Linked DNA regions of Homo sapiens: region 1 is linked to region 2. Evidence: fine-mapped expression QTL. Tissue or cell type: testis. Region 2 holds a variant in brackets; the other region holds the start of a gene. All regions are shown on one strand. Distances are between the middles of the regions.

Region 1 (15,235 bases), 17 kb after region 2:
GATATAAAACAAAAAAAGAAAACTTCAGGCCAATATCCCTAATGAACATTGATGTAAGAATTATCACTAAAATACTGGCAAACCAAATACGCAGAAAATCAAAAAGCTTATCCACCACGATCAAGTTGGCATCATCCCCGGGATACAAGGCTGGTTCAATATATGCAAATCAATTAACGTAATTCATCACATAAAGATATCTAAAAACAAAAACCAAATTATTATCTCAATAGACACAGAAAAGTTCTTCAATAAAATTCAAAATCCCTTCATGTTAAAAAATTCTCAATAAAGTAGGTACTAAAGGAAGATACTTTAAAATAATAAGAGCCATTTCTGACAAACTGACAGCAAATATCATACTGAATGGGCCAAAGCTGAAAACATTCCCCTTGAAAACTGGCACAAGACAAGGATGCTCTCTCTCACCACTCCCATCCAACACAGTATTGGAAGTTCTGACCGGGGCAATAAGGCAAGCGAAAGAAAGAAAGAAAGGGTATTCTATATCCACTTTTACTCAAATTCTTTTAAACCTCAAATTGTAAGAGACTACTGTCAAAGCTAAAACAAAATTATGTTGGGAATTTATGCCATATATCACTGCAATGAGGTCGAACTTCAGGAACTGTTAGCTCCTAACCATTTAAACAAAGAGAGATATTAAATATACTGATTTTAATGTCATCCCTCTGACTTCCTGAACCAACGACTATTTTTCCTGAAGGCACACAAAATTCAAAATTAAATAAAAAGGTATTTTTGAAAATAACTCCCACATTTCTGAAATGAGAATGGGGCAGCACAGATGCACGTTGACGGCTACCTCCATCGTTGAAAAGGGAGTTTCTGAGGCAGTTCTAATGAAGTGGCAATTTTGCAGATAATGTAAAATTCAAAAACACTATGGAGATGTTAGGCACAAACACGCCAAGCACATAAAGCAGCATCTGGCAGTTTCCCTTTGGAGGCCTCGTGTGCCAGCATTTCACTTAGATAAGAAAAAAGTCTCCTATTTTCAGCAATCTTCTTAAATGCTTTAATTTGACACTATCTGAAAGTGATACTTAAGTTGTGGTAAATCACATTTAATTGCAGCAGTCTACTGTCTATTATTTCACTATTGCTTCAATTTCTCTCTAAGCTCTCAAAGACCTCATGGAAAATAAAATATTCCTTAATGGAAGTGCTTTCATTCTTAGTGACTTTTTGCCCATCTTGGTCAATTATTTTGACATATGCTAAAGCAGTAACAGTCATATTAAAAGGCCAAGTAAAGCTGAAAAGTACAACTCATCTCTAAGAACATTTGGCTGTGTTTCTATATTACCTGCTTAAAGAGTCTAAATCTTGTTTTTAGCCACTCTCCCGGTTCTCTACCTCTAATGTTGGAGTAATGAGTTCGTGAAGTGCCTACTAGCCATGAGGACTAGGGGCTCGGGGTACAGATAAAGAAGACACAGACCCTGCCCTCCAGGAGGCTGAAGGAAAGAAGGGCAGGCCAATCAGTGCTCCTGAGACAGGGTGGCCCTCCTTCTGAGTCTTCTGTTTACTGAGGGCCTTTGTGCTGGATACTGGGCTGCTCCTCCATGTTCATTACTATCTGATATGGTTTGGATCTGTGTGTCCACCCAAATCTCATGTTCAGTTGTAATCCCCAATGTTGGAGGTGGGGCCTGGTGGGAGGTGATTGGACATAGGGGCACTTTCTAATGGTTTGGCACCATCCTTCTAGTGCTGTTCTCATGACAGACTTCTCATGAGACCTGGTTGTTTACAAGTGTGTAGCACCCTCCCTCTCTGTCTTCCTCCTGCTCCAGCCATGTAAGACAAGCCTGCTTCCCCTTCTCCATGCTTCCCTTTACACCATGATTGTAAGTTTCCTGAGGCTTCCCCAGCCATGTTTCCTGTACAGCCTGTGGATTCATGGACCAATTAAACATCTTTAGAAATTACCTAGGCTCAGGTATTTCTTTATAGCAGTGTGAAAAAAAACTAATACAGTCCCTCCTAACAGTAATGCCATGATGCAGGAAGAGAGCCTTACATTTAGGTAAGGATGCTTGGTCCTCTGAACATGTTGGTCCTTTTTATAGGTCCATCGTTCAGGCCACCTTAAAGAGGCAACTTGGGTGTTGTCCATCCAAGCTTGGACATGGGAATTTTGAGAAATAAGACTCTGGGCTCTGGAGGTTCTAGTTCTCTGGTTATCCCATCTGAAGTCCAGCTACCTCTGGAGAACAGCAAGTGGATGTGGATGAATTTGTTCTCAGTGATTCCTAGAGCTGGGTCTGAGTCTTGGGATGCAATGGAAGCCTCTTTCCTCTTCATTAGGCCCATTTACTGAAGAGCCTGAGTTTCAGAAGAGTTAGTGGACTTGCTCAGGTCTTGACAGATAGTTGGAATTGAAGGCTAAGTTTCTCCAGACCACGACAGAGGTTGCCATGGAGGTGCAGAGAAGATAATGAAAATCATGGTGGTAGATGGAGGTGGAAGGGGTAGTTGGTAAAACAGAGTAGGCACCCCAGAAATTATACTAAATCATTTTTTAAATTATTTTTAGTAATTAATGCATTCCTCCCCCTATATGGCCAGAGTTCTTAGAGTTGGGAGAAATCTTTGAAATTATTTGGATCATTCCTGCCTCCCAAGACTGGCAGAGAGGCACTGAGGCTCTCCTTCATCATCTTTAGGGATAAAGAGCTCATGCATGAATGGGGCTGGGGGTCCCTGGCAAATTCCGACCACTGGGGAATCTCTTATCAAAATTTACAAAGAGGAAGCAGGAAGCTCCTTGTTTCCAGTGTATATCACTCTTAACTAAAGCTCAGAGAAATTAAGATATTCTCTATGGCACTACTCAAAACCATGCACCATGATGAGTTGGCAGGATCAGAAGAAAGACCTTTTGCGGATGCCTACCTAGAAGGTTGCAGTGGATACTGGAATTTGGGTTTAGAAAGAAAAGGACAAGGGGATGCTACAAATAATGTCAAATTGAGGCTTTCAGTTTGTGTGGGTCAATATTAGCTTGTTGGGAAACAAGTGCCAGGTAGTCTGTGACATTCAAGGCCCTGATATCCTAAGAGTAAGGAAGAAATAGTGTTTAACAATATTCATCAGAGCAGTGGAGTATAAGAAAAGTCCACATATGTTCTGTGAGTCAGCATGCTGGGACTGAATTTCTAACCTCCTGGTTCTTAATTTCCTCATCTGTATAATGAGAGACTTGTTGAAGATCTTGCTAATATTCTACAGTGGGTTTTAATTTTTTTACATACTTGGTGAAAAAAAAAACAAAACCTCATTTTTTCCCCTCAATCTGATACTAGCTGGTCTAAGTCTCCATCCTTCAGGTTAGAGGAGCACTTTCCCTCAGTCATGTTTTCTACGAATCTCTAGGTGTCTTGCAGTCTAGAACATTCAAGTAAGGATTCCTGGTCCTCTGAACACTTTGGTCCCTTTTAAAGGTCCATGGCGCCGGCTACCTTGAAGAGGCAACTTGGATGTTCTCCAGACAAACTTGGACATGGGAATGTTCAGAAAAATGGGAGTTTGCGCTCTGGGGGTCCTGGTTCTCTGGTTAACCCATCTGAGGTCCAACTACCCTCTGGAGAACAGCAAGGAGACAGATTTGTTCTCTGTGATTCTTAGAGATGGGTCCCAGTCTTGGGAAGCAATGGAAGCCTCTTTCCTTTCCCATTAGGGCCATTTACACCTTTCCCAACTTTTGGTTTCTTTCTCCGGGCCATACACTGAATCCATTGTCATCATATGCTTAATTTTTCTATCACATAAGCCCTCAGTGAAGGATGTCTTCTGGGTGTCTAAAAACATTCTGTTTTTAACCATATGTCAGTTTATCTTTGGTTGTGTGCTGAACATGGTATTTGTAAAATACTTGTTGAAATAATTTGAGGGCAAGGATAATGTTACCTTCCTCTGAGGAGGATTTGATTTGTCTTTGCAAGGCACCTCAGGGAGCTTGCAATTCAAGATCAGGTTAATTCAAGCACAGGACTTTTTACCAAGCAACTTAGAAATATTTAAATAATTGAACAATTGATACAGCTGTACAGGTGCCTCCCAAATGAATATCAGCCCTAAATGCCCCCAATACTTAGGTTAAGTTCTTGTTAATATGGCTATATAACATATCACTCCCAAATTTAGGATTTGAAACAATAATTATTTCTCACGGTTTCAGTGGGTTAGCTCAGAAGCAGCTCAGCTGGGTGGTTCAAACTCAGGGTCTCTCATGATGTTGCAGTCAGATGTCAGTAGGAACTGGAGGCTCCAATTCCAAGGTGGCCCACTTACAAGGCTGGCAAAGTGGTGCTGGTGATTGGCAGGAACCCTTAATTCTTCTCCATGTGAATCTGTAGATGGAGCTGCTCGAGAGTCCTTGGAGAGCGGTGGCTGGCTTCCGCAGAGAGAGAGATCTAAGAGGTGGAAGATACAATGCCTTTTGTGACCTAGCCTCGGAATTCACACCCCATCACTTCCTCCACATTCTATTGGTCACCCAGAGCCAGCCCTGATTCAATGCGCAAGGGAACTAAGAAGGACATGAATACGAGGAGGCAGGAACCATCACAGGCTGTCTTGCAGACTGGTTACCACACACAGAAATTGGGACTTGAATCCAGGCCTCTCTGATGTCAAAGTCCTTGTACTTCACTGTGCTGCCCTCCCCAAGCAGCCTCTTGAATCTGTGGATCCCTCTAAGTGTAATGTCACCTTCAGCCTGCAACAGTACAGAATGGATAAAGTAGTGATATTAAACATGCTGTAAGAGAAGAAGAGAAGCCTAGGCTCCTTGAGCATGATTATAAAATGGGGACCAGTGAGGAGAGGATAGCCTCAAGAAGAAGAATTGAGAGGGGCTTGGTTAACTATCCCTAACTGGACATTCTGCTTTTTGCTGTTCCTGGCATCAGCTATCAGAAAGTCTCTGTGGGTGAGTTTCTGAGCACTCTTTTATGCCATTAACTACACTCTTGCGAAGCTTCTGTTTGAAGGGTTTGGATTTTCTTAGGCAGTGCCAGGTTTTCAGAATAGAAATTGACTGGTTTCTCCCCCAGAAAGTCTATAGCCTACCGTGTTTAACCCCAACCTCTAGTAATAGCTCAATCCACGCTGATCCCCCAGGGTTTGCAGAACAGAGTCTCGGTTGCAAACACTGCAATCAGCAGCTTGCTGTTTTTCTCTTTTTCTTCCACTTTATTTTATATTGATATTTAATGAATGTTTCTTTGGTGGTATTGCTATGTTCATTATTTAAACTCTGAAAATTGAAGCCATAGAAAATAATTGTTGATTCACCACAGGGAGCCATATAAATATTGTTCTAAATTCTAATGACCATGACCATTGGGATTATTTTTTGTGAAGCATAATTTCCATTATTTTGAAAGCCCTCAAGTCAGTATCTTAGAAGGGCAGCTGTTTTCTTGGCTATTTTCAATAGGTTTTTCTTCTTTCTTCATTTTTCCTTCCCTCCTTACCACATTAGACACCCTCCTTTTATTTCTTCCCTTGCCATTGTATTGTTTTTTGTTTGTTTGTTTTTGTTTGTTTTTGAGACAGATTCTCACTCTATCACCCAGGCTGGAGTGCAGTGGTGAGATCTCAGCTCACTGCAACCTCCGTCTCCCGAGTTCAAGCGATTCTTCTGCCTCAGCATCCCGAGTAGCTGGGACTACAGGCGCACGCCACCATGTCCGGCTAATTTTTGTATTTTTAGTAGAGACTGAGTTTCACCATACTCTCCAGGCTGGTCTCAAACTCCTGACCTCGTCATCTGCACGCTTTGGCCTCCCAAAGTGCTGGGATTACAGGTGTAAGCCACCACGCCCAGTCTGTATTGTTATTTTTATTGCTATTGTTAATATAAACGAGGCCTCAGGACTTAGAGCTTCACAACTAAATAATACCTGTGTACATCATTTTGTATTTTCAAGTTGTTTTTACAAATATCATCTTATCTGATGCACATTATAACTGAATGAGATAAATGGGACAAACGTCATCCCTATTTACAGATAAGGACAAAATCCCAAAGATTTGCAGAGCTACAGGGCTGGTTAGAGCAGGTCCCTCCTCCAAGAGCAGATCTCCCTCCCTTAGTATTATCTCACCCCTCCGGGCCTGGGAAACCTAAAGATACTTTGTGAACGCATGTCTGTATCTACAGAAAGCTCTGCTAGTTAAAGAAACTACCCTAGACCAAGCTGCGCTCTAAGGGGCTGGTGAGCTCTGTTATTTTTAAAATTACTTTAAATATTTTTTCTTTTTAATTAAAATAATGAGTCAAACATAGGGAGGATTACAGAAAATAATTTGGAACCAATCAGATTTATCTGAGGTGACCTTTTGCCACAGATGCTTGAAGTCCATCCATCTCTCTTATGAAATGAAATGTTACAGAAACAGCTCATTCTCTCCCTCCTCACTACTCCTTGCCTCCCTCCCAAGGCTACTTCCATCCTGAGTAGTGCTTTCTTCAGTTGCATGTTGATCTACTGTTATATACAAGAATGAGTTACAAGTCATATGCCATCAGCTTTGCATTTTGCAAGAATTTTCACAAATATTATGCTATCGCATGTACAGACTTTAGGCTCACTGCTGAACAATGCCCTGGGCTTCTTTCATTTTTCTGCATGTCTCACTCCTCTGGCTATGCCTGTTTGGGCTGGGAGAGAATACAGGGAATGTCCAAGATATTAGCAGTTCCTATGGCAGCAAGTGCTGGTTTCTGTGACTGTGGTTCCCTAAGAGAGGCAGAAAAGCAAGGGGACTAAGCTTCCACTGTGCACTTAATCGCAGGGCCATAGCCCAAGTAGGTTGTAAAGGCCGATGACATCCCAAGACAGGCTGGAACTTGAACTGACATTTTACAGAGGAAAACCAGGCCCAGAAAAGAGAATGGTTGCTTTAATGTCACACTTCCAGAAATTGGTAAAGCAGGAACCATCTCAGAGCTTATGACACCTTTGTACTAAACACATTGCCTTTAGGCAGTCTTATTCTTCATCCAGTAAACAGCAGACCATGGATTTGATTGTTTTCTTTCTTTTCTTTTCTTTTCTTTTCTTTTCTTTTTTTTTTTTTTTTGAGACGGGAGTCTTGCTTTGTCGCCCAGGCTGGTGTGCAGTGGCGCAAACTTGGATTTGATTGTTTTCTTGCCTCTGCTCCCCTGAGGAAAATGCCAGCAAACTATAAAATTTCATTCCCTGAGATCCTGGCAAGCTACATTGGACTTAGGTGTCTGCTGTTTCTGGGAGGCAGCAAGGATCTGAGTTTGGGGGAAGATCAGGTCACCGGGCTGAAGAGTAGCCCGAAGATCTTTTTTACCTGGATCGCCCTCTGGTGGCAGATTCGATAACAACCGCTCTAATTCATCATCTGAAATGCAAAGTGGTTGCAGCTCAAGTTTTCCTTGCTCCTCTTGGGACTTGCTCGTTCCTCATTAAAGCATCCCTATGCCCACTCTATACAAGACACATTTACTTTGAGCTGCATCCCTGAGATAATCGACTCCAAGCCAATATTTCTGTGTGTCAGTCACAGTAACTGGAGCTGTGGCATGGAAAATAAGAAGAAAGCATTGTTCCTGACCCCAAGGAATTTAAGTTAACTGGGTGAGACAGGCATACAGGCAGCTGACCAGACTCGGAGTCAGTGTGACCGAGAATGGACAGGCTGGGGGAATGCAGAGGGAGGAGGCCTTGGTGGGGAAGCTAGTGTCTGAGTTCTCAAGGAGCAATGGGAATTCTGAAGTTGGAGAGGGGCAGGGACACTGGAGGAGGGGAGGACAGGGCATGGCCCCTTCCTCCCTCCCTGTTTCCCCTTCTCCTTGGGGCCTTGCTCTCTTTCTCTTCCTCTTTACTCACCCCAGTACCAATAGCCCTACAATTCATGACCACCCGAAGCGTCCATTTTCTGGGAGAAGATTGGGCTCCTTAGCCTCTTCCTACAGACCTTTCTCTCTGAGTCTTCCCATGGGTCCTTCTGACATCTGAATAGAATGACCAAGGCATAAATCTCAATCATCGAGGTTTATTAAGTCAGCTTGAGGGTGCTTCCGGGAAAAATACAAGCCACAGGTACATCTGTGGCTGTTTTTCTCAAGAGAGTTTCAGGGGATTTAGTATTTACACATTTCCTTAAATGGGGGAAAGGCTTTTAGGAAAAAGGGCAGACAGGTGGTAAGGCGAATGGCTACATTCCTGTGAGACTCTAGCTGCTGCCTGGTAAATCTACATTTTACATAAGACAAATTGGATGTTTGAAAATAAAAAGAGAGTAAAGGAAGAGTCAAGTATGCAGATGTCTCTGGGTAGGTATAGGAATGAGTCTTGTCTTTATTCTGCACCTGCACTTCTATCTAAGCTTGCGATCAACATTATCAGCATGGAATCAACTTTAATTTTAGGAGCTAGGCTGGGCACGGTGGCTCACGCCTGTAATCCCAGCACTTTGGGAGGCCAAGGCGGGCAGATCACTTGGGGTCAGGAACTCGAGACCAGCCTGGATGAAATGGTGAAACTCCATCTCTACTAAAAATACAAAAATTAAGGCCGGGTACAATGGCTCATGCCTGTAATCCCAGCACTTTGGGAGGTCAAGGCAAGTGGATCACCTAAGGTCAGGAGTTCGAGACCAGCCTGACCAACATGGTGAAACCCTATCTCTACTAAAAATACAACAATTAGCTGGGTGTGGTGGCGCATGCCTGTCCAAGCTACTCAGGAGGCTGAGACAGGATAATCGCTTGAACCCAGGAGGCGGAGGTTGCAGTGAGCTGAGATCACGCCATTGCACTCCAGCCCAGGCAATAAGAATGAAATTCCTTCTCAAAAAAAAAAAAAAAAAAAAAATTAGCCAGGCATGGTGGCATGCACCTGTAATCTCAGCTACTTGGAAGGCTGAGGCAGGAGAATCGCATGAACCCAGGGGGCAGAGGTTGCAGTGAGCCGAGATCGCATCACTGCATTCCAGCCTGGGTGACAGAATGAGAGTTAGTCTCAAAAAAAAAAAAAAAAGAAATTAAGAACTAGACTTAGTTTGTAGACCTAAAGTTACAATTGGCATGTCCTTGTGTTGCCAAAAAAAAAAGAGGTCCCAATCCAGACCCTAAGAGAAAGTTCTTGGATCTCGTGCAGGAGGGAATTCCAGGCAAGTCACAGAGTTCAGTGGGGAGGGAAGGTTTATTGACGGCTACTCAAATACAGGGTAGGGTGTCCTCAGAAAGCAAGCGGAGGAATGCCTCGTCTTTACATTTTTCGTATATAGGAGTCTTCTCTATGTGGAGACTGAACTAAGCTGTGTCTACCTGTGTGGGTGGGCTGGAAGCATGACCAAATTTATTATTCTGTTGATTTAAAGAAAACTACTGGTGGCACATGCCTGTAATCTAGCATTGGGAGGCCAAGGTGGGAGGACTGCTTGAGCCCAGGAATTCAACATCAGCCTGGACAACATAGCAAGACCTCGTCCCTATTTTTAAAATAAAATTTGTTCTACAAAAAAATTAAAAAGAAAAAGAAGGCCGGGCGCGGTGGCTCACGCCTGTAATCCCAGCACTTTAGGAGGCCCAGGCGGGTGGATCACGAGGTCAGGAGAACGAGATCGTCCTGGCTAACACGGTGAAACCCCATCTCTACTAAAAATACAAAAAATTAGCCGGGCGTGGTTGCAGGCGCCTGTAGTCCCAGCTACTCGGGATGCTGAGGCGGGAGAATGGCTTGAACCCAGAAGGCGGAGCTTGCAGTGAGCGGAGATCGCGCCACTGCACTCCAGCCTGGGCGACAGAGCGATCCTCTGCCTCAAAAAAAAAAAAAAAAAAAAAAGAAAAGAAAAAAAAAGAAAAAAAAGAAAACTATTGGCTGGGTGCGGTGACTCATTCCTGTAATCTCAGCCCTTTGGGAGACTGGCCAGCAAATTGTTTGAGCTCAGGAGTTCGAGACCAGCCTGAGCAACAAGGCAAAACCCTATCTCTACTAAAAATACAAAAATTAGCCTGCGTGGTGGCACACGCCTGTGGCCCCAGCTACTCAGGAGGCTGAGGTGGAAGGATCTCTTGAGCCAGGGTGGTGGAGTTTGTGGGGAGGTGGAGTTTGCAATGAGCCAAGATCACACCATTTGCACTCCATCGCGGGCAACAGAGTGAGACTCTGTTGGGAAAAAAAAAGAAAGAGAGAAACAGAGAGAAGAAAGAAAGAGAAAGGAAGGAAGGAAAGAAAGAGAAAAAAAAAGGAAGAAAGAAAAGAAAAGAGAAGGAAAGGAATCTATCCTTGACACTTTAGTGTGTGAGTGCATCAAAGCATAATTATAATTATCTTGAAAGCATATACTATTATGGGTATTGAGACATCTGGACTTTCTTTTGTTGTAGGATTGTGTCCTTGTAGGTATCCTTGGGCTGTTTCCTCAATTGAAAAATCTTATGACCATAGTTTGTGATTGGCAAAGAATGTGCCTTCCTGGTTTTCAAATGGAGTTCATTTTAAAATGGTGTCACCCTGGCTCTCCTATGTTCCTGTTTCCCTTGCTTATAGGAGGCCAGCAGAGAATTTACTTATGAATGATCTGTGGGGGCAGGGCTTTGTAGATGCTTGAGGCCTTTTACCTTTCCATGGGGATCTGGCTGATGCATAATGCTAGTAACAGGTATTCATTTGAAAGTGGGTGTTGCATGACTCAGCATCTGGGCTTAAGTTTGGAGGTCCTGACATTTTTAAATTTCCTTTACATTCCCCCTGTTCTTCAAAGCTTTTGGAGAAAGCGTTGAGGAAGACACGAGATTGTGGTTTATTGGTTTATCCAATCCTATGTCACCATGAAGCCTCCCTCTTAGGTGGTCACATCCTAGAGAGGGGGAAATTACATCAGAAAAGGACCAATGCCAAATTACAGCAACAAAGGGAAAGTAATCCTGGAAGCTGATTTAAGCTATGTGACTGTGTCTTCAATTAAAATATTCAGTCCCTTCCCCTCCCCCTCCCCCTCCCTTCCGTCTCCCTCTGTTGCTGAGGCTGGACTGTACTGCCGTGGTCTCGGCTCGCTGCAGCCTCCCTGTCCCGGGCTCCCGTGGTTCTCCTGCCTCGGCCTGACGAGTGCCTGGGATTGCAGGTACGCGCCGCCACGCCTGACTGGTTTTTGTATTTTTGGAGGAGACGGGGTTTCGCCCTGTTGACCGGGCTGGTCTCCAGCTCCTGACCTCGAGTGTTCTGCCCGCCTCGGCCTCCCGGGGTGCCGGGATTGCAGACGGAGTCTCGCTCACTCAATGCTCAGTGTTGCCCAGGCTGGAGTGCAGTGGCGTGATCTCGGCTCGCTACAACCTCCACCTCCCAGCCGCCTGCCTTGACCTCCCAAAGTGCTAAGATTACAGCCTCTGCCCGGCCGCCACACTGTCTGGGAAGTGGGGAGATCTCTGCCTGGCCACCCATCATCTGGGATGTGGGGAGCCCCTCTACCCAGCCGCCCCGTCTGGGAGGTGAGGAATGCCTAAGCCCGGCCGCCCCGTCTGGGAAGTGAGGTGCGCCTCTGCCTGGCCGCCTGTCGTCTGGGATGTGAGGAGCGCCGCTGCCCGGCCACCCATCGTCTGGGAAGTGAGGAGCGCTGCTGCCCGGCCACCCATCGTCTGGGAAGTGAGGAGCGCCTCTGCCCGGCCGCCCCGTCTGGGAAGTGAGGAGCGCCGCTGCCCGGCCACCCCGTCTGGGAAGTGAGGAGCGCCTCTGCCCGGCCGCCCATCGTCTGGGAAGTGAGGAGCGCTGCTGCCCGGCCACCCATCGTCTGGGAGGTGAGGAGCGCCTCTGCCCGGCCGCCCCGTCTAGGAAGTGAGGAGCGCCGCTGCCCGGCCACCCCGTCTGGGAAGTGAGGAGCGCCTCTGCCCGGCCGCCCATCGTCTGGGAAGTGAGGAGCGCTGCTGCCCGGCCACCCATCGTCTGGGAGGTGAGGAGCGCCTCTGCCCGGCCGCCCCGTCTGGGAAGTGAGGAGCGCCTCTGCCCGGCCGCCCCGTCTGGGAGGTGAGGAGCGCCTCTGCCCGGCCGCCCCGTCTGGGAGGTGAGGAGCGCCTCTGCCCGGCCGCCCCGTCTGGGAGGTGAGGAGCGCCGCTGCCCGGCCGCCCCGTCTGGGAGGTGAGGAGCGCCTCTGCCCGGCCGCCCCGTCTGGGAGGTGAGGAATGCCTAAGCCCGGCCGCCCCGTCTGGGAAGTGAGGTGCGCCTCTGCCCGGCTGCCCGTCGTCTGGGAAGTGAGGAGCGCTGCTGCCCGGCCACCCATCGTCTGGGATGTGAGGAGCGCCTCTGCCCGGCTGCCCCGTCTGGGAAGTGTACCCAACAGCTCCGAAGAGACAGCGACCATCAAGAACGGGCCATGATGACGATGGCGGTTTTGTTGAAAAGAAAAGGGGGAAATGTGGGGAAAAGAAAGAGAGATCAGACTGTTACTGTGTCTGTGTAGAAAGAAGTAGACATAGGAGACTCCATTTTGTTCTGTACTAAGAAAAATTCTTCTGCCTTGGGATGCTGTTAATCTATAACCTTACCCCCAACCCCATGCTCTCTGAAACACGTGCTGTGTCAACTCAGGGTTAAATGGATTAAGGGCGGTGCAAGATGTGCTTTGTTAAACAGACGCTAGAAGGCAGCATGCTCGTTAAGAGTCATCACCACTCCCTAATCTCAAGTACCCAGGGACACAAACACGGCAGAAAGCCGCAGGGACCTCTTCCTAGGAAAACCAGAGACCTTTGTTCATGTGTTTATCTGCTGACCTTCTCTCCACTATTGTCCTACGACCCTGCCACATCCCCCTCTCTGAGAAACACCCAAGAATGATCAATAAATACTAAAATATATATATATATATATATATATATATATATATATATATATATATTCTTTGGGCAATCATTATTCTAACCCTAGGTTAGTTTTTTATGAGTCTCTGAAGCATTTTCATTACAGCAGCAATCTGACAGGTTTTTCTGGACTGTAGTTTGAATCAAGTGTTTAAATGAACTTTCTGAAAAGTGCATACATCAGCAGGCAAAACAGTTGCTTATATGTAAGTTGCTGTTATTTCTCCCAAAGCTTAAGGTATATAGCATTAGTTTGCAGAGCTTTAAGAAAAGCACAGTTTTAATTTCTAGTAATTTCAAGTCAGGGAAAAAAAGGGGAGAAAAAGAAAAAAAAATTTTAATGTTAGTTTAGAGGTGTATAGCCAGGAAAAAGTTCAGGATCCAGTCTAAACTGTAGACAAATAATAAGATCTTAAAAATAACGAACAAAGGCTGGGCACCGTGGCTCATGCCTGTAATCCCAGCGCTTTGGGAGGCTGAGGTGGGTGGATCATCTGAGGTCAGGAGTTCGAGACCAGCCTGGCCAACATGGTGAAATCCTGTCTCTACTAAAACTACAAAAATTAGCCAGGTGTGGTGGCACGAACCTGTAATCCCAGCTACTTGGGAGGCTGCGACAGGAGAATCACTTGAACTCAGGAGGTGAAGGTTGCATGAGCCAAGATCGTGCCATTGCACTCCAGCCTGGGCGACAGAGCAAGACTCCATCTCAATAATAATAATAATCCTCCTCCTCCTCCTCAAAGGTAGAATCTAATAACAAGTGTACTATAGTTTCTTTTGAAACATATGTTTTTTTTTTAATCTCCAGTCCCCCATTTCTACAAAAAACGAATCATGTTAGGACCAATTTATTTGCAAAATATGTTTTAGTCTCATTATCCTTGGCCTGATTATTTGCATAAGGCACAGCAAGAATAATGATTGGGCTGTATAGGTTTCTTTTATTTTTTTAATTTTTAATAGTCACCTAGGCAAGAGTGAAGTGGCACAACCATGGCTCACTGCAGCCTCAACATCCTGGGCTCAAGCAATCCTCCCACCTCAGCCTCGAGTAGCTAGGACTATAGGCATGCGTCACCAGGCCCAGTTATTTTTTGTCGAGATGGGTCTTACTATATTACCCAGGCTGGTCTTGAACTCCTGGCCTCAGGCAGTCCTCCCATCTTAGCCTCCCAAAGCACTGGAATTAGAGGTGTGAGCCACCGTGACCAGACAAGGCCCCTTTTCAACTGGCTTTGCTGGAACTTTTCCTAAGGAATCTCAGATTAGACTTTTAAAAGCCTCTTGAGGTTAGCCAATCCAAGGTTTTATCTGTGCCCTCAGATACCTGTACAAATTGGGTACATTCCTCTCTTCTCAGGCCGGGCACAGTGGCTCATGCCTATAATCTCAGCAGTTTGGAAGCCCGAGGTGGGAGGATCACTTGAACCCAGGAGTTCAAGACCAGCATGGGCAACACAGGGAGACACCCTATCCACAAAAAAAAAAAAAAAAAAAATTAGCCGGGTGTGGTGGCACATGCCTGTGGTCCTAGCTACTTGGGGAGCTGAGGTAGGAGGATCACTTGAGTCCTGGAGGTTGAAGCTACAAGAACTGTGATCATGCCACTGCACTCCAGCCTGGGAGAAAGAGTGAGACCCCAACTCAAAAAAAAAAAAAAAAAAATTTCTCTTTTCTCAAGGTCTCAAAATAACTCAAGTTTCCCGGGCTCATTAGAAAGTGACATGGGTCAGGAACTTTGTAAAGGAATTGCATAGACAAGGTAATAGGCCAGTCTTTCCAATGGATTTTTATTAGCTCTGTAGAGTCAACCTCCATTCCTCAAAACTTTCTGGTCATATCTGAATATATACCATTCCAATTAAAGCCTTGGAAAAATAACCAGTGTCTCTAATTGTGTCCTGTTACACAAGAAAACAGATTCTTATTGAACTTATGCAAATAACCATGTTGCCATAAATTAATAACACTCACAATAGTTTCCAAATTCTGAAGAAATCAGCTAGAGGGAAAGAAATATGCTTTAAATATTGCTCAAAACAGTATACTTTACTTAATTTGTTGTGTGCTGTAAACAGTTCAAAAGAAAAAAGTTGGCTGGGCGTGGTGGCTCACATCTGTAATCCTAGCACTTTGGGAGGCCGAGGCAGGTGGATCACCTGAGGTCAGGAGTTCAAGACCAGCCTGGCCAACATGGTGAAACCCCATCTCTACTAAAAAATACAAAAATTAGCTGAGTGTGGTGGCACGCTCCTGTAATCCCAACTACTTTGGAGGCTGAGGCTGGAGAATCATTTGAACCTGGGAGGTGGAGGTTGCAGTGAGCTGAGATTGTGCCACTGCACTCCAGCCTGGGCAACAGAG
Region 2 (15,235 bases):
TCTGTCATCACATCTCCTCTGACTCTCTTGCCTCCCCCTTTTCCTTGGTCCTATAAAGTTCCCACAAGGACCCTTGTGATTACATGGGACCTACCCAGATAACCCAAGATAATCTCCCCATCTCCAGATCCTTAATTTAATGACATTTGCAAAGTCCCTTTTGCCAAGTAAGATAACATACTCACAGGTTCCAGGGACTGGGGCATGGACCACTTGCGGGGGTAAGTATTCTGCTTACCATGATAATTTAAACTCTGGTCTTCTTGACTCCGAAAGCCATGCTTATCCAAGGACATACACCCTGCTCCTGCAGCCTACATTTAAAGCATGGGACACATGTACACAGAAAGCATTCCTTAGGTACAACTGACATACCAAGCCTCCTTTGAGCTATGCATGCAAACTAGTGATCATAGCGACAGTGATAGGTCAGACTTTGGTGTACCAGCCCTAAGGCCTCTGCATGTCCTTAAGAGTTGAGGGGTTTTCTCTCTGGAGAAGGTGTCTATATCAGCAAGGGTCTTGATATCCCACTCAAAAAGATGATTACAACCACTTTTCTGAAGCTACCTAAGAAAGGAAATGCTTTCACAGTACACTGAGAACTTTGCCATAAACAATATTTTTCAAATCATAATAACATAAATATTGACAAATAATTTAAAAGATGGTATTAATATAACTACCTTGAGAAGAAGGGATTGGGGGATATATAAAGTTAACTCCTCACCTGGCATAACAGGGAGCTAATAGAGTTTAATGTGGATAAATCATAAAATTATGACTCAATTATGTTATTTTTTAAATGCGGGAAACAACCAGAAGAAATGATGAAAAGAGTTAAAAGTAAATGTTTCTGGGGAGCAGAACTTGGAGGCAGGAGACTGTGGTTTTTTATTATAAGCCTTTCGGGATATTTTAATTTAAAGCCAGACCTTAAGAAAAGTAAGATCCAGATCTATTCTTGGTATAGAATTGTGGAAATATGATGACTGGAAATTGGAAAGATCATTTGAGAGCTTCCTTCCCATCATTTGCAACTTGTTTGCAAAAGATGGGAAAGGAAAAAAAGAAGACAAATCCCAACCTTTTATTGTAATATGTAGAGACTAAAATCGTATGTAGATGAAAATCCAAATTTTATTTCCCCTGCAATCCAGACTCAGCACAAATAACCAATTAAACCCACCTTCAAAGGCAGACAAAAATCATATCACTCTTTTATGCTTCTACCAGCATTTGAACCACCTCCATATAGACATAATTAGTTAGAAAAAGTCAGGTTAATATTTTTGTCAGTGTCTCTGTGTGTGTGTATTCAATAAGTTTGCAAATATATCTTTGGCTCCTGTTAAGGAGACCCAAACTATAATCCTGCTAAATGTCCAAGTCTCCTGTTTATGACTATGTAAAATCGGAGGCTACAGATGCCCTAAATACCCTCCTATGCCAAAATATCTCCACCATCACCCCTGCCTAGGCTGTCAGTTCCCAAACTGGAATTTCCCGCCTCACTCATTTCTCTGGGTTAAAGTCCAGCCTCCAGGAAGGCCCAAGTAAAATACCAGATTAATCTGAAAAGGACCAACTTGTTAATAACTCACTAACCCCTTGACATGCATTCATTCATCTCTTACAGAGAGTTGGGTCCTAAAGAATGGGACAGTAGAAAGATGGGTTTTCCTAGAGAGGGTCTGAAGTATGGGAAAGAGTAGGGGTAGGGGTCATGGAATCATCTTGGATGAGGATGGAAAGGCAGCATGGGGCTCTGGGAGATGGTTTGAGTGGCAAAGAGAAAGGAAAGTGTTTTCCTTGGTCAGCAATCCATGGTGGCACTGCCCAACACAACACAGACTGCACCCTGGAGATGGGCAGCATGGCACTGGGGGTTGCAAATGGATGTCAGTCTTGCCTGTGTTACTGGGGAAATGAAGAGTCAAATGAACTAAAGCAGTGGTCCCCAATCTTTTTGGCACCAGGGACTGATTTTGTGGAAGACAGTTTTTCCATGGACTGGGATGGGGGCAGGGATGGGGGTAGGAGGGATGGTTTGGGGATGAAATTGTTCCACCTCCGATCATCAGGCATTAGTTAGGTTATCATAAGGAGCGTGCAACCTAGATCCCTTGCATGCTCAGTTCACCATAGGGTTTGTGCTTCTGTGAGAATCTAATGCTGCTGCTGATCTGACAGGAGGAGGAGCTCAGGTGGTAATGCTTGCTCGCCCACCACTCACATCCTGCTGTGTGGCCCAGTTCCTAACAGGCTACAGACCAGTACTGGTCCACAGCATGGGGGTTGGGGACCCCTGAACTAAAGGACTGGAAACCACTTTGATAGGTACAACGTAGGTAAAATAGAAGCCTCCATGACCCACTGTGGTTTCCTGAAATGTTGGTTTTTCATTCAAATGCTTTGGCAGCCACAGAGTGTGGAGTGTTAATAGTTTATCTATAACTGGCTATCAGAAGACAAATGGAGTAGGACACAGGGCTGAGATGAAAGGTAAAGAGACATTAACAGGAGCTCTCCCCTACAACTTCCAGTGAAACACACCTATGGAGAAAAATGTTGGGATGTATCTATATCACCATCTATTTAGAAGCTACAGAAAGCTCTTATGGACAAAGGCCTGCTCATCCTTAAAGACTTCCCTTGAAAAGTCTTTTCAGATGTTCCTAGATAAAGTATCCTCCCATAGCCCCTTAGTCATATTTCAGAACAGCATTTGTCACTTGGTCTTGTAATGATGAGTTAATACACTTGTTTATACCATCCAACTGTGAACTCCTAGACTGAGGAATATCTTTGGACTGAGGACATATCCCCACATGGGAGCACTGGGGAGAATACGTAGGCATTTCCCATTGAGCACTTTTTGAAATAAGTAAATAAAAGGGTCACAGAAAATTGAAGCCCTTGTGATCTTTTAATTTCCTCAAAAGCATAACTTAATAAATGTGCAAAATGCACAAACTTGCTTGCATGATCAACCCTTGGCCTCCCTCCTCAAGTGTCAAGGGAACAAAAAGATAAGAGGTATCATATTTAAGAAAGATAATGCCATCTTCTATCCATCCAAGGGAGGTTCAGTAACTTCTATGGCCATTAAATGCTGGAAGATTGATGTGGGCATGCTCTGCTTGGCTCCTACCTCTTCTTCTGGAAGCTGGCTGCATCTGGGAGTACACATTCTCTGCCTCTCCTCCAGGGATGAGCTCCTGGTTAGCACTGCCTGAGAGAGGGGATCAAGTCTGTCCAATTCTGAGGTCCTATTAAGCAGGCCCATGTAGTTCTTGCACTAAACTACACGCTCCATCTTAGTAATATTTGGTAATATTTTGGTCTCCTCCTTCTGTTCCTTTTTCTTATTAAGCAACAGTGAGATATGATGGTTTTTAAATTAATTGGATGATATATTTAAAAGCTATAAAATGCTAATATTTGACCTGTTGTTTGACCTGGTTGTTCTATGGAGCTTTATCAAGGGAAAAGAGAGCCCAAAGAGATTTCTTGGCTCCAGTAGAGAATCTAAGATTATCAGGGATTTATAAAGATGTAGTAGGCTAGGTATGGTGGCTCAAACCTGTAATCCCAGCACTTTGGGAGGCCGAGGTGGGTGGATCACCTGAGGTCAGGAGTTCAAGACCAGCCTGGCCAACAGGGTGAAACCCTGTCTCTACTAAAAATACAAAAATTAGCTGGGCGTGGTGGCAGGTGCCTGTAATTCCAGCTACTCAGGAGACTGAGGCAGGAAAATCGCTTGAACCTGGGAGGTGGAGGTTGCAGTGAGCCAAGATCATGCCACTGCACTCCAGCCTAGGTGACAGAGGGAGACTCTGTCTCAAAAACAAACAAACAAACAAACAAAAAGATGGAGTAAGTAAACCATGGTTCAATCACCTGTGACCTTAGAAGGCCTTTTCACGGATAGTTATGAACCATGGTGACTACCCATGATCCCTTCATGATGACGAGCATTGGGATGACCGTGGTAATTTGATGGATAGCTGCCCTTCTTTTATTTAGAGGTCACTATAGGTCAGGCCACATGCTGAGTGTTTTACATGCAATATCCCATTTATTCTAACAAGCCTGTGAAATAAGTATTTATCCTATGTTACAAATGAGCAATCCAAAGAAATCAGCTCAAATGACAGAAATCAGATTATTTGACAAAGATCACACAGTTGGTAATGGCTCAGAAGGAACTTGAACCTAGGTCTCCTAGCTTCAAATCTCCTCTCAGAGTTGTGACTTTAGGAGGCCTTCACTAGAATCAAGGCACGCACTACAGTCCACAGTCTCTGTGCAGGGTGACTAATGCGAATGGACCTAAGACCATGTCTGTCTCCATACTGTCTGTGGGAAGTGGCAAAGATGCATTTGTGAGTAGTGAATGAATGGAGCTTTTCTTTTGGTTTTCAGCTCACTCCATATCCCCTAAAACCGTAACACTCATGGATACCATAGTCTGTAAAATCAAACGAAAATTACTTACAAGCACTGGTAAAATCTAAGCAGTGGAGTGCCAGTAAATATTTAACAATTGGTTCTCTGAAACAAAAAAAAAAAGCCATAATATGTAGCACCTGCCAATTTTCATGCTGTAAATACTTCCAGCATGGCCAGTTTCAAGCTACCAACCTGACAACTCTGAACATGGAGTTGAGAAGAGACGTATTGAACTGGTTCTTTCTAGCTGGTAGGAGCCTGCTCCAGCACACCACTGAGTCTAAGCAACCCTGTAAAGTCAAATTTGGGGGAAGGAGATGAGAACTAAGCCTCTTCTTATTAATCTGAACTGGAAAATGTGTCTTACATTCATTTGTGTTTTTCTTTATTGTGTACATTTATTTCATTTCACATGTGCCATCACAGAGCTAAAGTACAGTTCCACAAAAGCTGTGCTGGGAGGATGCAAAAGTCATCAAGAACATGGTCCCTACCTTATACATACTCAGCCCCCTCTAGAGTCACATACCTGAACTCACTAAACTTCATAGCAACCCCGTAAGGTGAGAGAGACAGAATAGTGAGTATTAGGCCAGGCACAGTGGCTCATGCCTGTAATCTCGGCACTTTGGGGGGCTGAGGTGGGCAGATCACCTGAGGTCAGGAGTTTGAGACCTGCCTGGCTAACATGGTGAAATCCCATCTCTACTAAAAAATACAAAAATTAGCTGGGCATGGTGGCAGGTGAGTGTACTCCCAGCTACTCAGGAGGCTGAGGCAGGAGAAGAGCTTGAGCCTCGGAGGTGAAGGTTGCAGTGAGCAGAGATCCCACCACTGCACTCTAGCCTGGGTGACAGAGTAAGATCCTGTCTCAAAAAAAAAAAAAAAAAGAATAGTGAATGTTTTAGAGATGAGGATACCAGGATAAGGGAGACTATGTCTTGAACCTGCCTCTTTCTCCCAGTCAGGGACTGTCATTTGCCACTCATCACTCCTCATTGGGGAATAATTGTAGGGTAAGGTCAATGCGGGTTCCTAAATTCGAGTGTCTCAGGGTTCTGTTTAATACTTGCTCTTCTCTTTATATAGCAGTTTAATAGCAGGTTGTAGTCTTTGAAATTCCTTTGGCCTCCATACCCAAAGAATGATTTCCCTTTTTCTATAGATCAAGTTCTGTCTCCTTTCAATAGTATCTTTTCAGTAGAAAGAATGCAATAGTTCCACAGTTGCTACTCTACTTGGTAAATGCGGTGGAGGCCGAACAAAAACTGGGTTGGGGAAAAAAAAAGTTAGGTTGAGAACCACCAAAGTTGATTCTTTTCTCCCGTGAGATTTACTGAAAATTCAGGTGAATTACCTTTGTGTGACTAAAAGGGACTTAGGGAAAAATAGCTGAGTTTCCATTAACCAAATTCCCTGGAACCAAAGGAAAATTGTGCACTTTGTTGCACATTAAAAATAGGAACTGCAAGTATTAAAAGAGCAAAGTATCACATTTAATAATCACGAGGTGAGGCTTAATGATAAACTACTATATCTACATATGCACATCATATACTTGCAAAACATAACAGACTATTAGAGCAAAACTTAAGGAACTATGAATGCTAATTAGCTAGTTTATCTAAAATGTCTACCTGTTCTTAATTACCTTTTTTTTTTTTTTTCCTAAGAAGTAAGCTTGAATCTGGCCTTACTTTTTTTTTTTTTTTTTTTTTTGTGTGTGTGAGACAGAGTCTGGCTCTGTCACCCAGGCTGGAGTGCAATGGTACGATCTCAACTCACTGCACCCTCTGCCTCCCGGGTTCAAGTGATTCTCCTGCCTAAGCCTCCCAAGTAGCTGGGATTACAGGCATGCACCACCATGCCTGGCTAATTTTTGTATTTTTAGTAGAGGCATGGTTTCACCATGTTGGCCAGGCTGGTCTCGAACTCCTGACCTCAGGTGATTGGCCCGCCTCGGCCTCCCAAAGTGCTAGAATTGCAGGTGTGAGCCACCGCGCCCAGCCTCTTAATTACTTCTTAATCAACCTGGCTTTCTCTGAGTTCTCAGAGGAATGGGACATTCAAATTTACCTTAAACTCTTTGAAACAAAAACCATGAGAACATAAACCCAATACAAATGCTTTCAAGCTACAGAATATCAAAAGCCATTTTTATTGAATTCTATTTAGTGATCTTCTCCTCAGTTTTTTTCTTTTTCAAAGCCTGTTTCCAACATAATTAGAGAGAAGACATGATGCTAAGATTTCTAGTTTGTTCTCAAAAATGCCCCTTCTTACTTTCTTGATGCTTTTTTGCATGGCAGAGAGAAAAGGGCCATGTTGTTGTAGGGTCCCTATGATATGAGTAGAAACATTTTACTTATTGTTAGAAAGCTGTGGTTACCTTGGCAGGGAGTAGCTACCTTGCTCAGGAAGCTCCCCCTGGTTGCGTCTCCGGGAATCAGCCCTCAGTTAACCAGGCAGTTCACCATTTATTGTATTTATGGCTTAAACTTTATCCCTTCTTTTAAAGGGATTCTTTTAAAGAAGTATTTATCCCTTCTTTTTGAGGGATCTGGAATAAAACAGTCTAACCCATTCTAGAATCTACTTTAAATTTCTTTTATTTACCAAGAGGGAAAGAAATAATCTCAGGTTGTTTGCAGATCAAAAATGTAGAACTGTTAGAAGAAAGGTGCTGGGAAAATTAGCAATGAAGTGAGAAAATGGTTTAAAAGAGACAACTGCACAGCAGCTGGTCCTCCAATGTGTGTTTTGCTGATGAAAATCTTTCTGAGGGGCTGTACTGGAACAAACCCATATTAGGAAATCCCAATTCTGTCTACAGCTAAGACATACACGAAGTCAGTAGCACCTCAGGGTTTGTTTTTTTTTTTTCTTGAATATTTCTCTTTGCTGTCTCTGTAACTGAATATGTTAGAAAATTACTCATATTTTCCTTCAGCTTCCACAAAGAAATTTAGGTTAAGCAAGAGGAGAAAAGCAATTTCTAATTTGTTTATGGGTCTGCAAGTTCTGCAGAATCTGAGGAGAGAAGGATAAACTTACTGGTAAATAATTCACCTTCCCACCTCTCAAATAGTTTTTCTCAAATAGAAACACTCCAGGCACACACAAAAGTTCTCCATTTCGGGGAGCAGCCCAAACAGTGTCTCCTCCTTAACTGGCAAACTTTGCCCTAGAAGCTCCTTCACCTCCACCCCAGAGAGCTTCAGGGGAACCAGGGCTAGTCCACTCCAACGCCTGTCCCTACCTGCCCGCTTGTTCCTAATGACCTCAGTCCTCTGTCGCAGAGCTCTCCAGCTACCAGGAAGAAAACAGACACTATTCTCTGCCACCAACTCCCCATCCCAGCCAGCCTCCCAGCACACAAGAGCCTCTGCAAAGAAACGATAGTGCAAGCACATTTTCTTATGGAACTATCCTGGATCCCTCCACTGTCCCATGCCTCAGGATTCTCTCATCCAAGCACCCTATTTCCCTTCCCAACGTAGAGCCACGCCCTCATCATTTTCAACATTTATTTTTTGGAGACAGATAGGCGTGTTCTTGGTTATTCAACAACTCCACGATCAATGTGGTACTTTATTTAATACGTCTGATTTCACTAATGCACAAACAACCTTGCCTGAGTCTGGTATGATCATTCTCATCTTATAAATGGAGAAGCTGAGACTGGGAGTTTCCAAGACACCCCAGCTCACAGTCACTGGCAAGGGCCGTCCCCAAATCTGAGCCTTCCGCGCAGCCCAGGCTGCTCCCAGCTGCACCATGTTCCGGGTGCAACGAGAGAAGGGTCAGAAGTGAGCGGGCAGAGGACGCCCTCCCCTGCTGGCTGCTGGTGGCACTAGGGGCTCCTGGCAACGACGCCTGTCAGGGACGCCTTTCCAGACGCATCAAACCCAGCTTTCAGACGCTGAAGGTGACATCCTGTGAGGGCGACAGCAGCAGTTATTGGAAAGGGGCCGGGTGAAGTCCTGAAGTACTGACTGCTTAGGCTCCACGCACCATGCTGGGTAGACCCTTTCTTCAAGGCAGCTTCTGAGTTGGACATGCCCATTTTGCAGATGGGAGATGAAGGCTTCTGAATGTTAACTAACCCGCTAAGCTGAAGAGCCAGGAGGATTTGGACCCCGGGCTGCCTTCACAAGCCCACCTTCTGCTGGTCCACCTCCTCATCCCAGGATCTAAGGAACCTGAGGGAAACAAGAGCCCTGTATTAGTAAAGGTTTCCCAGAGAATAAATAGTTATAGATCAATAGCTATGAGATTTATTATAGGAATTGGCTCATGTGGTTATGGAGACTGAGAAGTACTCCCATCTGCTGGCTGCAAGCTGGAGAACCAGAAAAGCCAGTGGTGTAATTTGGTTCAAGTCCAACAGAGTGAGAATCGGACTAGCCTTGGGGGGACAGGGGGTGGGGGAGCCTGTGTAAGTCCCAGGATTTGAAGGCCTGAGAAGCAGGGCACAGATGTCCAAGGAGAAGATGGATGTCCCAGCTCAAGTAGAGGGAGTGAATTCATCCTTCCTCCACCTTTTTATTCTATTCGGGCCCTCAGTGGATTGGACGGTGCCCACCCACACGGGTGAGAGCAGATCTTCACCCAATCCACTGAGTCCAATTCCAACCTCTAGGGGACAGCCTCACAGACACACCTAGGAATCATGTTCCACCCACTGTGTGAGTATCCCTTAGCCTAGTCAGGTTGACACATAAATTTAGCCACCACTAGCCCTCTGTACAAGGCCACTGCCCCACTCCCTGGGCTGGCTTCTGATGCTGCCTGCAGGCCAAAGCACCAAGATCTTGGCTAGGGTCCCCATCCTGTAAGCCATGCAAGGACATTCCTTCCCTCCTGTCTAAAGCCCTTCACCCTTCTAACCACTCCGCTCTGGTGGCCAACGCTTTGAGGGGGTAGCAGAGAAAGCTGTGTATTCAAACCCCTGAAAGAGGATGTCCTAAGTTTGTCTTGGATGGAACTAAACCATCCCACATCCATAACTGTGGGATCCCTGCCATCCCGGAATTATCTTATATTCACAACTCCGACTTAAGGCACAAACAGAAGCTACTGTCTGACACGTTGGCCCTTGGCTGGTACACACAGAGTTGAACCATCTGTTGGGCAGTTTGCCCAAGGCTTGTCTTGCTTTTGGCAGCCCATATTTATCTACAATGGGTCTCTCTGATATGAGGGTAGACTTTGCTGGAGGCCAGGGTAACAGAGCATAGGAATTAGGCATGTGTCTCCTTCCTTGATTTTCCAAGATGCCTTTAGAGGATCCTCAACCTGCTGACACTTGCTGACTAGTAAAGCCCTTCCCTTTTCTACAATTGTACTTACGAATATCAGATAAAGGCAGGAAAGGTTGGGAACATGCAAAAGAGCCCCTAGCAGCTGTGTGGGGAAGCGGACAGCTCCCCTGTGGGGCCTGTGATGGTGCATTGGTATCACGGTCTTGTGTGCAAAGAGGCCGGGACTGTTCTTCCCACTTGCTGGATCAAAGAGGTGGCACACCTTGTTGAAGGTAAAAAGAGCCAAAGGCTTAGAAGGAACTTCCATGAGACTCTCCCTCTCCTCTATTGGTGCTCACTTAGCTGAGAATATGTACAACGATATCCTGGCCTGGGACAAAACAGAGCAGGTGCTAAGAGGATCACGGCTGTCACCTGATATCATTGAAATGTTTGGGGCAGGGGGTCCTCCCTCCGGGCCTTGCCAGGTACCCCTCTACTGTGCTGCTCCATCTCACTCCTGCTGACTCGTCCACCATGGGACAATCCAGAAAAGCATGAGAAAAGCACTTGGCACTTCTTGTGTGGGAAGACATCACAGTGGCCGCAT[C/A]CCCCATGAGTGTTCCTATCTTCTGTGCCAGGGCTGCAGAGAACACAAGCTGTGGCTGCGGCACTCACTGCCTACTCTGCCTCCTCCATTCACATCTTCACACAGATGCCAACTGTCTGCCAAAGGGAATAAAAAATAAAAGCAGAGTGAACTTGACATCCTATACCTTCCAGCATTATCCCTCTGAACAAAGTAGAAATGGTGCAACAGCTGAAGAAAAGGACTCAGAGAGGAGAGAACGGAAGAATGATGAGATGTGATGAGTTAGTGAAGTCAGGCCCCAGGAAATTCCACACCAGCAGCATCAATCTGCCTTCTGTACCCAATGCTGAGGGATCAAAACTTGGAGCCCAGGGCTGGAGCCTCAGGATTCCTCCCCAAATCACACTGGCATGACTGTGTGCAACCCCGGAGTTGGGCTCATGTTTCTTCTGGAATTGTAGAATATAAGGCACAATTTATTCTATCCTTTCATCTTCCTGCTTTAAGTTTAGAAATTGCTGGTGGCTTTCCCTTAAAGGGAGTACATTTAAATTTTTTGTATTAAGTTCTTAAGTTTCTTAAGGCAAAATATTGATGGTACCATCACCATCTTCGTCTGAAAGTCATGTTCACATTATAGAAAAGACTTTCGCTAGACTGAGTCTTCCTCAGTCAAAGATTATATCTTGAAAGTGTATACTAGGTTAAGCAACACTTTTGAAATGTTATCATACTTTAATCAGAATTTCACACACAACACATTAAGAGTAGCCAACAGTGAGGTCAATGTCCTTATTTTCAAAAAAGCATTTTTCTCCAGTTTATTTTTATGAAAGGTCAGTGCCTTGGACATAATGTTCACTTCCATTCAAGAACATTTCTTGATAAGTAGAAATAATTTTTCAGGCAAAAACCTGATGTTCTAAGTTCAATAATAACCTGTTTCTACACTATGCCAAATTCTGGTGTGAAGGGAATTTTTACTGACATGGTAATTTTTTCACACATTTTATGATTTTTAAAAAATAGCCAGGTGTGGTAGCTAACACCTGTAATCCTAGCACTTTGGGAGGCTGAGGCGTGTGGATTGCGTCAGCCCAAGGGTTTAAGAACATCCTGGGCAACAAAGTGAGACCCCGTCTCTATTAAAAAAAATCATAGGATATCCAATAGTCAACAGTTCTCTGGTTTCAAATTTCTGCCAGAAAAATAATCTACAAATCAACTTGTCTAAAGCAAAAGTCCTTATTCATAATAGCTGCCATCAATTTCTAACTATTATGTTGCTGATAACAGCATATAGCAAGTCAGTCAACTCAGTTATTGGGAATATTTTCAGCTGTTAATGTTGGTATGTGTGCAGCATAGGGTTAAGACTGTGGGTATAGAATTCACACTTCCCAAGTTCAAATCTTTGTTTATTGTTTACTAACTGTCCAAACTTGGGCAATCGACTAAACTGCAATTTCTTCATCTTTAAAATGGAGACAGCATATTCCTCCTAGAGTTATTGTAAGGATTAAACAGGCAGGTAAGAGCTAAGGTGATTATTGCAATGCTGAAAAAACCTTATCAGTTTCTCTTATTATATTTCTCAAACTGTGTAGATCATGCTTGGAGAATAAAGTGTTTAAGTTGGTCAATTGAAAATCTTTTCGGAAAATTAAATACCTTTGCTGTTAATAAGTCAAATCAATGTTAATAATATTCTTCTGTGTATGTCCATAGCCTTGAATTGTAATCCAGCCTATAGCCCGTATCATTTTGTTTGAGTTTTTAACAATAGACTGAATTGTTAAAGAACAGTTTTAGAGTTTCAGAAGAGTTGAGAAAACAGTAGAGTTCCCATATGCCTGTACCGAGTTTCCCCCATGGCTATCATCTTAAATTTCTGTGGTACATTTGTTACAATTAATGAACCAATATTGATACGTTATTATTATTAGCTAATGTCCATGCTTTACTCAGATTTCCTTATTTTTACCTAATGTCCTATTTAGGTGTTAGAATCCCATCCAGAATATCACATAACACTTGGTCACCATGTTCCCTTAGGCTCCTCTTGGATGTGACAGTTTCTCAGACTTTCCTTTTTTTATGACCTTAATAATTTTGAGGTATATTGGTCAAGTAGTTTGTAGGATGCCCGTCTATTGGAATTTTACACTTTTCTCATGATTAGGCTGGTTTCTTGAGGAGGAGGACCCCAAAGGTAACGTGCCATTTTCATCACATATCAAGGGAACATACTAACAACATGACCTTTCACTGTTGATGTTGACCTTGATGGCTGAAGACGTGTTTGTCAGATTTCTCCACGGCAAGGTTACCCTTCACCCCGTCCCTTTACCACACTGTGTTCTCTGTAAGGAAGTCACTATGAGCAGCCCACACTTAGGAGTGAAAATTTATGCCCCCCTCCTTGAGAGCACAGTATCTACATCAATTATTTGGAATTCTTCAACATGGGATATTTGCCTCATCTTCTCTATTTATTTATTTATTCAGTAATTTATTTATACAAGTATAGTTTGTTTTATAATCCACCATCATTTTATTTATTTTGTTGTTCAAGCTGTGTTCCTAGTGTAAAGAAAAGATAAATATTTAAGGTGATGGTATCTGATTATCCTGATTTGATTATATGGATGTATCAAATTATCACACGTACCCCCAAAATATGTATATCTAATATGTGTCAATTAAATAATCATTCCAGTTTTGTCATTGGGAGCTCTTTCACACACACAGAGCTCTTCTGCGGTCCTTTTGACATATTCCCATCAATGCTTTTTAAAACAACAACAACAAAAACAACACTTCCTTACTTTCAAGCACTACAAGATGCTCCAATTTCATCTTGTATATTTTCTACCCCAGTCCTTGATAGCAATTTCTCCAAGCAGCCTTGCTTCCTTTTACTGAAGAATGGCATCAAAAACAGATCTGGGAGCTAGGTGTGCTAGTGGCTACTGGGTGTTGTTTCATTCAGGTACTTTCACCTCACAAAGCAAGGAAATATATGAATGTATACTCACCTGTATATAAAACATATCTATAAATATTTCTATGTGTAACCATTTACATTTATATTAAGCTAGACATGAGTTCCTACTGATCTCTCCAACTGTAATCCTTTACCACATGGATCATTCTATTCTCCTGATTCCCTTGCTTATCTGTAAAGTTTCACCCCAAAAGAGAGAAATCTTGTTCCCAACACTTGCCATTCATTTACTCAATTATTTAATTCCTCTCTCTCTCTCTCTCTCTCTCTCTCTCTCTCTCTCTATATATATATATATATATATATATATATATATATATATATGAGTATCAGAATTATTGACCCATGGGAAGCAATATTATCAACTACAGTACAGTGCTTAAATTCAGTTCTTTTCACCTTTAGTATTACACACTAAAACATTTCCAAAGTTACTGAGGTCAGCATCTTTCTGCCTCCCCTCATTTCAATGGGGTTGAACATTATCATTTTTAACCAATAAACAAACAACTGGATGTTATATCAACACAAAAGGAACTTCATGTTCACACGTCTATACAAACAAACATTTCACTTGTTTAAAAAAAAGTAAGTTAGTTATAGAATAAAAGATAAAATATTAACATTTTATATAAGATCTGATGTAAATTGTCATCAACAAAGTGTTCATATCCCACATATTTTATCAAGCTTGTCAAATATTGTTCATGCAAACTATCAACTGTAATTCACCTTGGCTTTTGCTAATTGCAAAAATGTTCTGGCCGGGCTTGGTGGCTCACGCCTGTAATCCCAGCACTTTGGGAGGCTGAGGCAGGTGGATTGCCTGAGGTAAGGAGTTCAAGACCAGCCTGGCCAACATGGTGAAACCCCATCTCTACTAAAAATACAAAAATTAACTGGGTGCAGTGGCAGATGCCTGTAATCCCACCTTCTTGGGAGGCTGAGGCAGGAGAATTGCTTGAACCTGGGAGGCAGATGTTGCAGTGAGCTGAGATTATGCCATTGCACTCTAGCCTGGGTGACAGAGCAAGACTCTGTCTCAAAAGAAAAGAAAAAAAGTTATCCTTTCTGACCACTGCTTTTAAATCTCCACTTTATTTTTTCCTGGGAAATAAACTTTAGGCACTTGAACCACAGCAAGCCTTGACCTCAGCCTGGAATAAACCACACTAATTTGTTGAACCCCAGGCTGAATCCTCTTTTCTGTGTAGGTGTATTGCTTTTTAAATTTACAAATGAAACTAATAGTTTCCTACCTTGCCACCCATATCAATATGTTTATATCATCTATACTTACATATTTATATCTATATCCATTCTTTTTAAATTTTAAGTTCTGGGGTACACATGCAGGATGTGCAGTTTTTTACATAGGTAAATGTGTGCCATGGTGGTTTGCTGTACCAATCAACCTATCACCTAGGTATTGAGCCCAGCTGCATCAGCTATTTTTCCCAATGCTCTCCCTTCCCACACCTAACCCCCCGACAGGCCCCTGTGTGTGTTGTTCCCCTCCCTGTGTCCCTGTGTTCTCATTGTTCAGCTCCCACTTATAAGTGAGAACATACGGTGTTCGATTTTCTGTTCCTGCATTAGTTTGCTGAGGGTAATGGCTTCCAGCTCCACCCATATCCCTGCAAAGGACATGATTTCATTCCTTTTTATGGCTTTATAGTATTCCATGGTATATGCATACCAGATTTTCTTTATCCAGTCTATCATTGATGGGCATTTGGGTTGATTCCATGTCTTTGCTATTGTGAATAGTTCTGCTATGAACATATGTGTGCATGTATCTTTGTAACAGAATTATTTATATTCCTTTGGTTATATATCCAGCAATGGGATTGCTGGGTCAAATGGTATTTCTGGTTCTAGGTCTTTGAAGAATCACCACACTGTCTCCCACAATGGTTGAACTAATTTACATTCCCA

Which allele goes with the higher level. Alleles are on the strand shown, and positions count from the first base shown. SD is a standard deviation of normalised expression in the study named.
For the expression in testis of the gene that starts at base 4,444 in region 1, allele A in region 2 goes with a higher level than allele C (small effect, 0.32 SD a copy in GTEx).

What was found. PIP is the estimated chance that this variant, and not a neighbour inherited with it, causes the effect.
Region 1: it holds the start of LINC00658, and the variant in region 2 is fine-mapped to the expression of LINC00658 in testis (GTEx, PIP above 0.99).

The regions. Positions count from the first base shown.
Region 1 is chr20:5,441,305-5,456,539 of GRCh38, forward strand. LINC00658 (long intergenic non-protein coding RNA 658) reads right to left here and starts at 4,444. Exons shown (of 5, transcript NR_038240.1): 1 at 4,200-4,444.
Region 2 is chr20:5,423,982-5,439,216 of GRCh38, forward strand. LINC00658 (long intergenic non-protein coding RNA 658) reads right to left here. Exons shown (of 5, transcript NR_038240.1): 2 at 13,119-13,292; 3 at 10,191-10,424; 4 at 9,808-10,089; 5 at 7,976-8,657. Among named protein-coding and RNA genes, the nearest start is that of LINC00658, 14 kb to the right of the region's middle. The variant C/A (reference allele first, on the strand shown) is at 10,309.